4 separate regions of the Homo sapiens genome follow, and all the other regions are linked to region 1. Evidence: fine-mapped expression QTL. A gene starts in region 1. Each other region holds a variant in brackets. All regions are shown on one strand. Distances are from middle to middle. Region 1 holds the start of POLR2G (RNA polymerase II subunit G). Region 2 overlaps SLC22A24 (solute carrier family 22 member 24). Region 3 overlaps LOC105369333 (a long non-coding RNA gene). Region 4 overlaps SLC22A24 (solute carrier family 22 member 24).

Evidence for each region. PIP is the estimated chance that this variant, and not a neighbour inherited with it, causes the effect.
Region 2: its variant is fine-mapped to the expression of POLR2G in thyroid (GTEx, PIP above 0.99).
Region 3: its variant is fine-mapped to the expression of POLR2G in whole blood (INTERVAL, PIP above 0.99).
Region 4: its variant is fine-mapped to the expression of POLR2G in fibroblasts (GTEx, PIP above 0.99).

Annotation. Positions count from the first base shown.
Region 1 is chr11:62,759,967-62,762,583 of GRCh38, reverse strand. POLR2G (RNA polymerase II subunit G) reads right to left here and starts at 1,004. Exons shown (of 8, transcript NM_002696.3): 1 at 924-1,004; 2 at 680-789. The coding sequence starts at 935. RefSeq lists an enhancer at 796-995.
Region 2 is chr11:63,081,689-63,084,305 of GRCh38, reverse strand. SLC22A24 (solute carrier family 22 member 24) reads left to right here. Exons shown (of 10, transcript NM_001136506.2): 7 at 849-1,063. Among named protein-coding and RNA genes, the nearest start is that of SLC22A24, 61 kb to the left of the region's middle. The variant C/T (reference allele first, on the strand shown) is at 1,003.
Region 3 is chr11:62,939,850-62,942,466 of GRCh38, reverse strand. The region is part of intron 4 of LOC105369333 (a long non-coding RNA gene); the gene reads right to left. Among named protein-coding and RNA genes, the nearest start is that of CHRM1, 20 kb to the right of the region's middle. The variant TC/C (reference allele first, on the strand shown) is at 1,468.
Region 4 is chr11:63,124,176-63,126,792 of GRCh38, reverse strand. The region is part of intron 2 of SLC22A24 (solute carrier family 22 member 24); the gene reads left to right. Among named protein-coding and RNA genes, the nearest start is that of SLC22A24, 19 kb to the left of the region's middle. The variant C/T (reference allele first, on the strand shown) is at 1,173.

The DNA of each region.
Region 1 (2,617 bases):
TTAAAATGCAGATTCTCAGGTCTGCCCCAGACAGTCTTGATTCTGTAGGGAATAAGGAGGCTCAGGAATCTGCATGTTCCTGCAGGTTTTTCTGATGCTGGAGGCCCAAGTACTCCACTGCCCTGAGCTGGGTCCCAGCTCATTAATATCAGAGAGGCCCCTCTGTGCAAAGCCCAGAGATGGTCAAATCCCAGGCTACTTCCTTCCTCCCCCAAACTCTCGATCTGCTTTTTCTGGTCATTCATTCAGAAGATATATAGAGGCCCATGGTGTGTGGTCCCTGGGCACAGGGGATAAGAGAAAACCAGCAGAATGACAGAGGGAGAGCAGACACAGGAACAATGATTACACTGTGAGCTCCACAGGGGCTGTCCTCATTCTATCTTGTTCCCATTCTACCTTGTTCTGAGCCCAACACGGGTCCTGGCACACACCAAGGGTTTTTAAAATGTTTGAGGAGTCAATGAATGACCCATCTCAGCTGAGAGAAGGAAGTCTTATTGTCCAGCATTGCAGAGGGCGCCCTGGGAACCCAAAGCAGGAAGCAACTGGCTGCCTGAGAGAGGAGAGGGGTCCCCAGAGTGGGTGGCAGGACGAGTAGGAGTTGGGGAGGGGTTGCAGGTATAGCGCCCCGTGTGCGCATCGAACGATCTGGCGGTGCGGTGAGCTCGACACTCACTTCCCTGTGCAGGTCCCCTCCACCTCGGTGAAGAGCTTCTGCTTCACCGTGTTGAGCAAGTTGGGGCCGAAGTAGCGCGGGTGCAGCAGGATTTCGTGCTCTAGGGAGATCTGCGGAGAAAAGTGGGATGGCGACCAGGCCAGGCGCTGGCAGGTTATTGGACGACAAGGGGAGTCTCGCGCCGGCGCCTGGCCTTGCTCTTCCTTTCCACCCAGCCCTTGCCGCCACCCTGAGCCCTGCTCACATGGTAGAACATCTTCCCAGACCAGGTAGGCAGGCAGAGTCCACACCTCCGACAGTCCCTGGGAATCCACCGGAAACACTTAGACGCCGCAACCCCAGTTCCGCGCTTGCTGCGACTAGGAGGGCGGAACACCACCTCCTCCGCGAGGGCGGAACTCCACCAGCTCCGCGGGTCTGATTGGGCCTCGCCGTCGTGGGCGAGAACCACTAAGCCCCGCCCCTCACCCCCGCCCCCCAGCCATCAAACGACAACTTTTTTTTTTGAGGCGGAGTCTCCCTCTGTTGCCCAGGCTGGAGTGCAGTGGCGCGATCTCGGCTCACTGCAACCTCCGCCTCCCGGGTTCAAGCGATTCTCCTGCCTCATCCTCCCGAGTAGCTGGGATTAAAGGCATGTGCCACCACACCTGACTAATTTTGTATTTTTAGTAGAGATGGGGTTTCTCCATGTTGGTCAGGCTGGTCTCAAACTCCCAACCTCAGGTGATCCACCCACCTCGGCCTCCCAAAGTGTTGGGATTACAGGAGTGAGCCACCGCGCCCGGTCGGCAACTATCTGAATTGCTTGAACCTGGGAGGCGGCCCGAGATCTTGCCACTGAACTCCAGCCTGGGCAACAAGAGCGAAACTCCATCTCAACAGATAGATAGATAGATAGATAGATAGATAGATAGATAGATAGATAGATAGATAATAGATAGATAGATAGATAGATAGATAGATTGATAAATGCTACCACTTACTGCTTTCTTCCTAGATGCCTGGGCAACAAGAGCGAAACTCCATCTCAATAAATAAAATAAATAAATAAATAAATGCTATCACTTACTACTTTCTTCCTAGATGCCAGACACTGTGCTAAGCGCTTGATATAATTCTCTCCCTTAATTCTCATAATAATCTACAGAAATTGGTGTAGAAATAAAAAAAAAATGTTTACGAGCCTTAGCCAAAAGGCCAAGAAGCTACAGAAAATAATGAAATTTAGGCCGGGCGCTGTGGTTTACGCCTGTAATACCAGCACTTTGAGAGGCCGAGGCGGGCAGATCATGAGGTCAGGAGATTGAGACCATCCTGGCTAACATGGCGAAACCCCGTCTCTACTAAAAATACAAAAAATTGGCCGGGCGTGGTGGCAGGCGTCTGTAGTCCCAGCTACTCAGGAGGCTGAGGCAGGAGAATCGCTTGAACCCGGGAGGCGGAGGGTGCAGTGAGTTGAGATCGCGCCACTGCACTCCAGCCTGGCGACAAAGCAAGACGGAGTCTCAAAAAAAAAAAAAAATTTAAGAGCTATTGGAAGCCCAAAAAACACTTTAAGCCTCGAGAGAGATATGACTGCGAGTCACATATAGTTTACAACTTCTGTTCTCAGATTATAGATTAACTCTTTTTTTTTTTTTTTTTTTTTTTGAGACGGAGTCTTGCTGTGTCGCCCAGGCTGAAGTGTAGGAAATCCATGACTATTTCATCCTCTGTTAAAAAATGTTACATGCGCCGGGCACTGGTGGCTCATGCCTGTAATCCCGGCTACTCGGCTACTGGGGAGGCTGGGGCAGGACAATTGCTTGAACCCGGGAAGCTGAGATTGCAAAGAGCCGAGATCGCTCCACTGCACTTCAGCCTGGGATGCAGAGCAAGACTCCCTCTCTCTTTTTTTTTTTTTAATAGAGACGGGGTTTCTCCATGTTGGTCAGGCTG
Region 2 (2,617 bases), 320 kb before region 1:
TTTACCTGCCAGCCCCTTTATCTCAATTCTGATGATTTAATAACCCATTGCTTGTAGCTCTTAGACTGCTTAGAAATGTCAGGCCACTGCACTCAAGTCCAGGAAACACATGGAAAGCTCTTGCCTACAGTGCCCTTGCAGCCTCACTAAGGTAAGGTAAAGAAGGTTAGATATTCATTCAGAGTTAGAGATTCTCTGTTTCTGTAGTTCAAGCTGACCTTGGTGGTTGATATGGTAAGAAGGGTAAAAAGATATTGTTGACCTTTTCTCTATGTAAATGTGTTATGATTCCTCTCCACTTGTATAATCTGTGGGCCAGATTATACAAGTAAGTATTACCCCCATTCTCCAGGGATTACTAAGACTAAGGTAAAGAAGGTCTCTGAACGGGAGCAGAGAAGTTTGACTCACACAATGCTGAACTGCTGCAAAGAAACTATTCCCCTAATTTCCATCATCTAACCCTACCCATGTCCAATCATTTATATCATCCAGTTGACTGATGAATTCAGATTTCACATTACTTTTTCTACATGGGTAGGTTTTTAACTTTCATTGATAATATGTATGTTTGCTATCTCTTTTCTTCAGGACCCAGTAAAAATTATGACAATGAAGAGCCCATTTTAACATCATGTTCCACAATTATTTTATGTTATTTTAAGACCATTGTCTGAAAAGGAAATAGTCTATAAAACAGAATGATCCCTTTTTTAAAAGGAAAAACACCATTTGCCAATTGGGTCAATATTATAATCATTTGTAGGACTTACCTTCAAAATCTCAGAAAATGTTTCCTAGGCTTTAAATCTTATTGAATATGTCTTTGTCCTTTTTATTCACTTCAGATTCGCAATCACTGTACCCTTTTATGGCCTGATACTCAACTTGCAGCACTTAGGGAGCAATGTCTCCCTGTTCCAGATTCTCTGTGGAGCTGTCACATTCACAGCCAGATGTGTTTCCCTTTTGACACTGAATCATATGGGTCGTCGAATAAGC[C/T]AGATATTGTTCACGTTCCCGGTGGGACTTTTCATTCTGGTCAACACCTTTTTGCCCCAAGGTGAGAGAGACAGGAGTTTCAGGAAAGAAAGTAGTTACCCCCATTCTCCAGGGATTACATTGGTCTTTTATGCCTGGTGCCAAAAGAACAGCATTGCCCTTGACAGCCAAAAGATTCCCTGAAGTTAATATGAGGGTTTGGAACTGATTCTGACAATATGTTGTTTTCAGCACTTGGGCTCTTACTCAATCAATGTCAGCCGTGATGGTTCAGACACACGGTTGTCTTCATCACAGCCAAGATGAATCTGGACATGGGCTCCAATTACACCTAATGGTTTCTTTAGAAAAGTAACTAAGCACATGCTTTTTGGCTAATCACCCTTTTATAGCTATTGTGGAGGGGCTAGGCCTTGCAACTGTATGCCAAAGTGGGCACACAATGCCCTCACTGCCTCTGTCTAGGACACTTTCTAATTTTTGAGGTCTCTCTAACTTGTCCATATCCTCTTCCCTGTATATTCACTTTTGAGTTCCCTATTATCTCATATAAATGCAACACTTTTTTAGAAAAGGCTTCTTGACTTTGCTGAAATAAAAATTCCTTGTCTTCAACCATAAATGAAGTGTACAGTTGGAACAAGAAAAAGTCTCATCTTAATATCTCTTTATCTGTTTTATAATCTACCCCTAAACAAGGAACAGATTAAGAAGCTGACCCAGCCTCTCTTAAAATCCACTTTCCTAAGTTAAATTAATAGAATGACCTTCTGTAATGATTATGGGAACATTAGTGGTCACTATATTCCACTCATCTCCCAGAGCAGGAACATATTTTGCAGGATTCCCAGACTGGTGGGCTCCATGCCTCCTGCTGGTGTAAGTTTTCTGCCTTATAGGAGAGCCTTCTCCACTGTTTTAAAATCCTATTTTGATATTTTTATTGATGAAAAAGTACCTTTTTGAATTTTCAGTGTCAATGGTTCCCAGTGTGATATTATTTATTTCCAAATAGGAGTTAGGTTTTATAATGTTAGGTTTTACAATCCTGAATTATTCAGAGCTTATGTCTCTCCACACTGTCCACTCCCAAATAAACCCAGTCCTTTTCTTACTATATGGTAGAATATCTGTCCCATATCTAAAATTGTTCCCACATTCTTAGCTCTAAACTGCTCAAGACATGGCTCACAAACTCCTCAGTTATTATCTATATATAGTTCTATGCCCCACTGGAGGTGCACAGAAAATATTACATAGAAAAAATTAAAATGAATATTGTTCTAATAGAACAAATATAGTTCTGTGCCCCCACTGGAAGTACACAGAAAATATTACACAGAATAAATAAAACAAATATTTCCTGTTGGTCCCTACCCCCACCTTAATTGGCAATACTCAAATGTGCAGAAAGAGTTGAAGATTGAGATTGAGATCCTTTATTCAATGTTTAAGCCCTACCATTTTACAGTCTATATTTCTCAGCCTCGCAACCATTCCCCAATCTCTGGCATGTTGCAGTTTGTCTACCACATATTTCACACTTGCAAATTCCTCCATTAGAATCTTTTTACAATTATTTGGGGGTTGAAAAGTTTCTTCAGGCAAGATTTCC
Region 3 (2,617 bases), 180 kb before region 1:
TGATTAGAAAAAGGATTTCTATTTCCATTAAAATAACAAAATTACACCGAAAATCATCCCAAAAAAAGGTATATTTTTAAATAACCTTAAAAGCACCAAGGAGCTAGAAAGATAGTAAGGAAAAGATAACCTTAAAAGCACCAAAAAGCAGCCGGGCGTGGTGGCTCATGCCTGTAATCCCAGCACTTTGGGAGGCCGAGGTGGGCAGATCACAAGGTCAGGAGCTCGAGACCAGCCTGGCCAACATGGTGAAACCCCGTCTCTACTAAAAATACAAAAATTAGCTGGGTGTGGTGGCATGCGCCTGTAATCCCAGCTACTCAAGGCAGGAGAATCGCTTCAACCCGAGAAGTGGAGGTTGCAATGAGCCGAGATTGCACCACTATACTCCAGCCTGGGTGACAGAGCAAGACTCCATCTCAAAAAAAAAAAAAAAAAAAAAAAAAAAAAGCACCAAAGAGCTAGAAAGATAGTAAGGAAAATGGGGCCGGGTGTGGCAGGTCACACCTGTAATGCCTTTGGGAGGCAGAGGTGGGCAAACTGCTTGAGCCCAGGAGTTCAAGACCAACATGGCGAAAACCCATCTCTACAAAAAATACAGAAATTAGCTAGGTGTGATGGCATGTGGCTGTAGTCCCAGCTACTCAGGAAGTTGAGGAGCGAAGGATCACTTGACCCCAGAAGGTTGAGGCTGCAGTGAACCAAGATCATGCCACTGTACTCCAGCTGGAGCAACAGAGTGAAACTTTGTCTCAGAAAAAAAAAAAAAGAAAGAAGATAGTAAGGAAAATCTAGGCCAATCATCTAAGGAAAAGTGCAAACCCAGAGAGGTAAGCAGAGCATCTGAACACAAAACCAAACACTATATATAATGAGAAAATGTATATGCATTCTCTTCAGCATCAGAATCAACTATTTAACACAGTATTCGGGGGCCTGACCAATACCACTCTAGTAGGAAAGAAAAAGATATAAGAAAATTAAAAATTAAAAAAGAAAAGTTAAAAATCTCATTACTTAGAATATGTTCTAAAAATCTCATTACTTGGAATATGTTCATCTACCTAGATAAATGAACAAAATCAACAAACAATTAAAACTAATAAGAGAGTTCTGCAAGGATGCTAGATACAAAATCAAATTACCAAAATATCAATAGCAATAGCTTAGAATCAATAATCTAGAAAATATTGTTTTGAAAAGTAAGACACCACTCAGAATAGCACCAAAAGATATATCTCATTAGGGAATTAACAAAGGACACCCTGTTAAATTTGTTTGCAGCTTTTCTTGATGCAAGAAGAAACAGAATTGAGAAGAGAGCTTGGAGATAGACATGTAAATATGTAAATTTGATTATATCAAAAAGGATTTCTGCTTACTGAAGGACACAATGGACAAATTTAACAGATAGATGACAGATTGAGAGGAGAGATTTGCAACTCTTTTTTTTTTTTTTTTTTTTTT[TC/C]GAGACAAGGTCTGGCTCTATTGCCCAGGGTGGAGTGTAGTGGTGCAATCTCGGCTCACGGCAACTTCCACCACCCGGGCTCAAGCCATCCTCCCACCTCTGCCTCCTGAGTAGCTGGGACTATAGGCGCTTACCACCACGCCCAGCTAATTTTTGTATTTTTTGTAGAGACAGGGTTTTGCCATGCTGCCCAGGCTGGTCTCAAACTCGTGAGCTCAAACGATCCACCCGTCTTGGCCTCCTGAAGTGCTGAGATTACAGGTATGAGCCTCTGCGCCTTTAACACTGACAAGACTCCTTCGACAAGAAAAAGAAAGGAACACTAGTAGTAGACACATGGGCAAAGAAAATGAATAGACATTTTACAGAGAAAGAAATCCAGAAGATTAATCACCACGTGAAAAATGAGATAGTGGCTGGGTGCGGTGGCTCACGCCTGTAATCCCGGCACTTTAGGAGGCTGAGGCGGGCGAATCACGAGGTCAAGAGATTGAGACCATCCTGGCCAACATAGTGAAACCGCATCTCTACTAAAAATACAAAAATTAGCTGGGCATGGTGGCACATGCCTGTAGTCCCAGCTACACAGGAGGCTGAGGCAGGAGAATCGCCTGAACCCGGGAGGCAGAGGTTGCAGTGAACCGAGATCGCACGACTGCACTCCAGCCTGGTGACAAAGCAAGACTCCATCTCAAAAAAAAAAAGAAAAAGAAAAAGAAAAATGAGATAGCACTTTACAGCCATTAAACTGGCAGCATTAGAAAGCCAGGTAATGGCAGGTGTTACAGGCCATGTTAGAATACAGGACCCCTATATCCTCACGTCTCAAATGCACTGCTGGTGGGAGTGAAATTGGTACCACCATTCTGGAAAGCAATTGGCAGCATTCACACCCACGAACACACACACACACACACACACACACACACACACACACCAGTAATTCCCTTCTTGGGCCTGTATCTCAGAGAACTTCTCACAAAGGCCCTTATGGAGACGTGTACAAGGACATTCACTGCAGTATTGTTTGAGGTCATGGGTGTTGGCAACAATCTAGATCCCCATAGCCGGGGGAATGAGTGTTTAGGTAAAATGTGGAGACCGGCACACCATGGCATAGTATGCAGCAGCAGGTAAACACCATAAAAT
Region 4 (2,617 bases), 360 kb before region 1:
GCTCATGGATAAAAAGAATCAATACTGTGAAAATTGCCATACTTCCCAAAGTAATTTATACATTCAATGCTATCCCCATCAAGCTACCACTGACTTTCTTCACAGAATTGGAAAAAACTGCTTTAAACTTCATATGGAACCAAAAAAGACCCCACATAGCTAAGAAAATCCTTAGCAAAAAGAATAAAGCTGGAGGCAACACGCTACCTGACTTCAAATTATGCTACAAGGCTACAGTAATCAAAACAGCATGGTACTGGTTCCAAAACAGATATATAGACCAATGGAACAGAACAGGGGCCTCAGAAATAACACCACACATCTACAACTATCTGATCTTTGACAAACCTGACAAAAACAAGCAATGGGGAAAGGATTCCCTATTTAATGAATGGTATTGGGAAAATAGGCTAGCCATATGCAGAAAATTGAAACTGGACCTCTTCCTTACACCTTATACAAAAATTAATTCAAGATGGATTAAAGACTTAAAAGTAAGACCTAAAACCATAAAAATCCTAGAAGAAAACCTAGTCAATACCATTCAGGTCATAGGCATGGGCAAAGACTTCACATCTACAACACCAAAGCAATGGCAACAAAAGCCAAAATAGACAAATGGGATCTAATTAAACTAAAGAGCTTCTGCACAGCAAAAGAAACTACCATTAGAGTGAACAGGAAACATACAGAATGGGAGAAAATTTTTGCAATCTACCCATCTGACAAAGGGCTAATATCCAGAATCTAAAAAGAACTTAAACAAATTTACAAGAAAAAAAACAAACGACCCCATCAAAAAGTGGGCGAAGGATATGAACAGACACTTCTCAAAAGAAGACATTTATGCAGCCAACCAACATAGGAAAAAATGCTCATCATCACCAGTCATCAGAGAAATGCAAATCAAAACCACAATGAGATACCATCTCACACCAGTTAGAATGGCAATCATTTAAAAAGTCAGGAAACAACAGATGCTGGAGAGGATGTGGAGAAATAAGAACACTTTTACACTGTTGGTGGGAGTGTAAATTAGTTCAGCCATTGTGGAAGACAGTGTGGCAATTCCTCAAGGATCTAGAACCAGAAATATTATTTCACCCAGAATCCTACTACTGGGTATATACCCAAAGGATTATAAATCATGCTACTATAAAGACACATCCACA[C/T]GTATGTTTACCGCGGCACTATTCACAATAGCAAATACTTGGAACCAACCCAAATGTCCACCAATGACAGACTGGATTAAGAAAATGTAGCACATATACACCATGGAATACTATGCAGCCATAAAAAAGGATGAGTTCATGTCCTTTGCAGAGACATGGATGAAGCTAGAAACCATCATTCTCAGCAAACTAACACAGGAACAGAAAACTAAACACTGCATGTTCTCACTCAGAAGTGGGAGTTGAACAATGAGAACACATGGACACAGGGAGGGGAACATCACATACCAGGGCCTGTCGTGGAGTGCAGGGCTAGGGGAGGAGTAGCATTAGGAGAAATACCTAATGTAGATGACAAGTTAATGGGTGCAGCAAACCACCATGGCACTTGTACACCTATGTAACAAAACTGCACATTCTGCACAGGTACCTCAGAACTTAAAGTATAATAAAAAAATTTTTTAATGAAAAATAAACTTCAATGAAATGTTTTTTTGTTTTTTTTTATTTTTGTATTATTATACTTTAAGTTTTAGGGTACATGTGCACAATGTGCAGGTTAGTTACATATGTATACATGTGCCATGCTGGTGTGCTGCACCCATTAACTCGTCATTTAGCATTAGGTATATCTCCTAATGCTATCCCTCCCCACTCCCCCCACCCCGCAACAGTCCCCAGAGTGTGATGTTCCCCTTCCTGTGTCCATGTGTTCTCATTGTTCAATTCCCACCTATGAGTGAGAACATGCGTTGTTTGGTTTTTTGTCCTTGCAATAGTTTACTGAGAATGATGATTTCCATTTTCATTCATGTCCCTACAAAGGACATGAACTCATCATTTTTTATGGCTGCATAGTATTCCATGGTGTATATGTGCCACATTTTAATTTGAAATGTTTAATAAGGGATATGACAATGATAGGGTTTGTGACAGTTGAGTTGAAAAGACTGTTAGTAAGAGCTAACAGTGGCAGCCAGGAGACCAGTTGTAAAATAATTTATTTCAATAACCATGGCTCAGATTTGTAAGATGACCCTAACATCTAAAATAGTGAAGGGATATTTTGGAAGATAGTAAAGGAACTCTAGAAGTTATCAAGTTCAACCTCCTATCAAATGAAGGAACTTCTGCATTTCTAACAAATAACTACCTTGTTCTGTTACAAAACCTTTAAGAATATGTTGCTCACTTCTTTAAAAAGAACCGTCTGCTAGTGTTTGACTCCTGTTAATATCACACAGTTAATCCATACATCGAATTTATCTCATTATCTGTGCCTTCTCAAGCTTGAAAGTTTTTTCTGTCTTTCTTCCCCCCAGGAGCTAGATGACACTCAACAGTATTCCACTGCACTTAGAATAAAATCTAAGTTTTCTTATCATAAATCTTGCCAGCTCTGAGATCTGGCTGCTGTATCCCTTTCTCACCTCATCTATTACCTT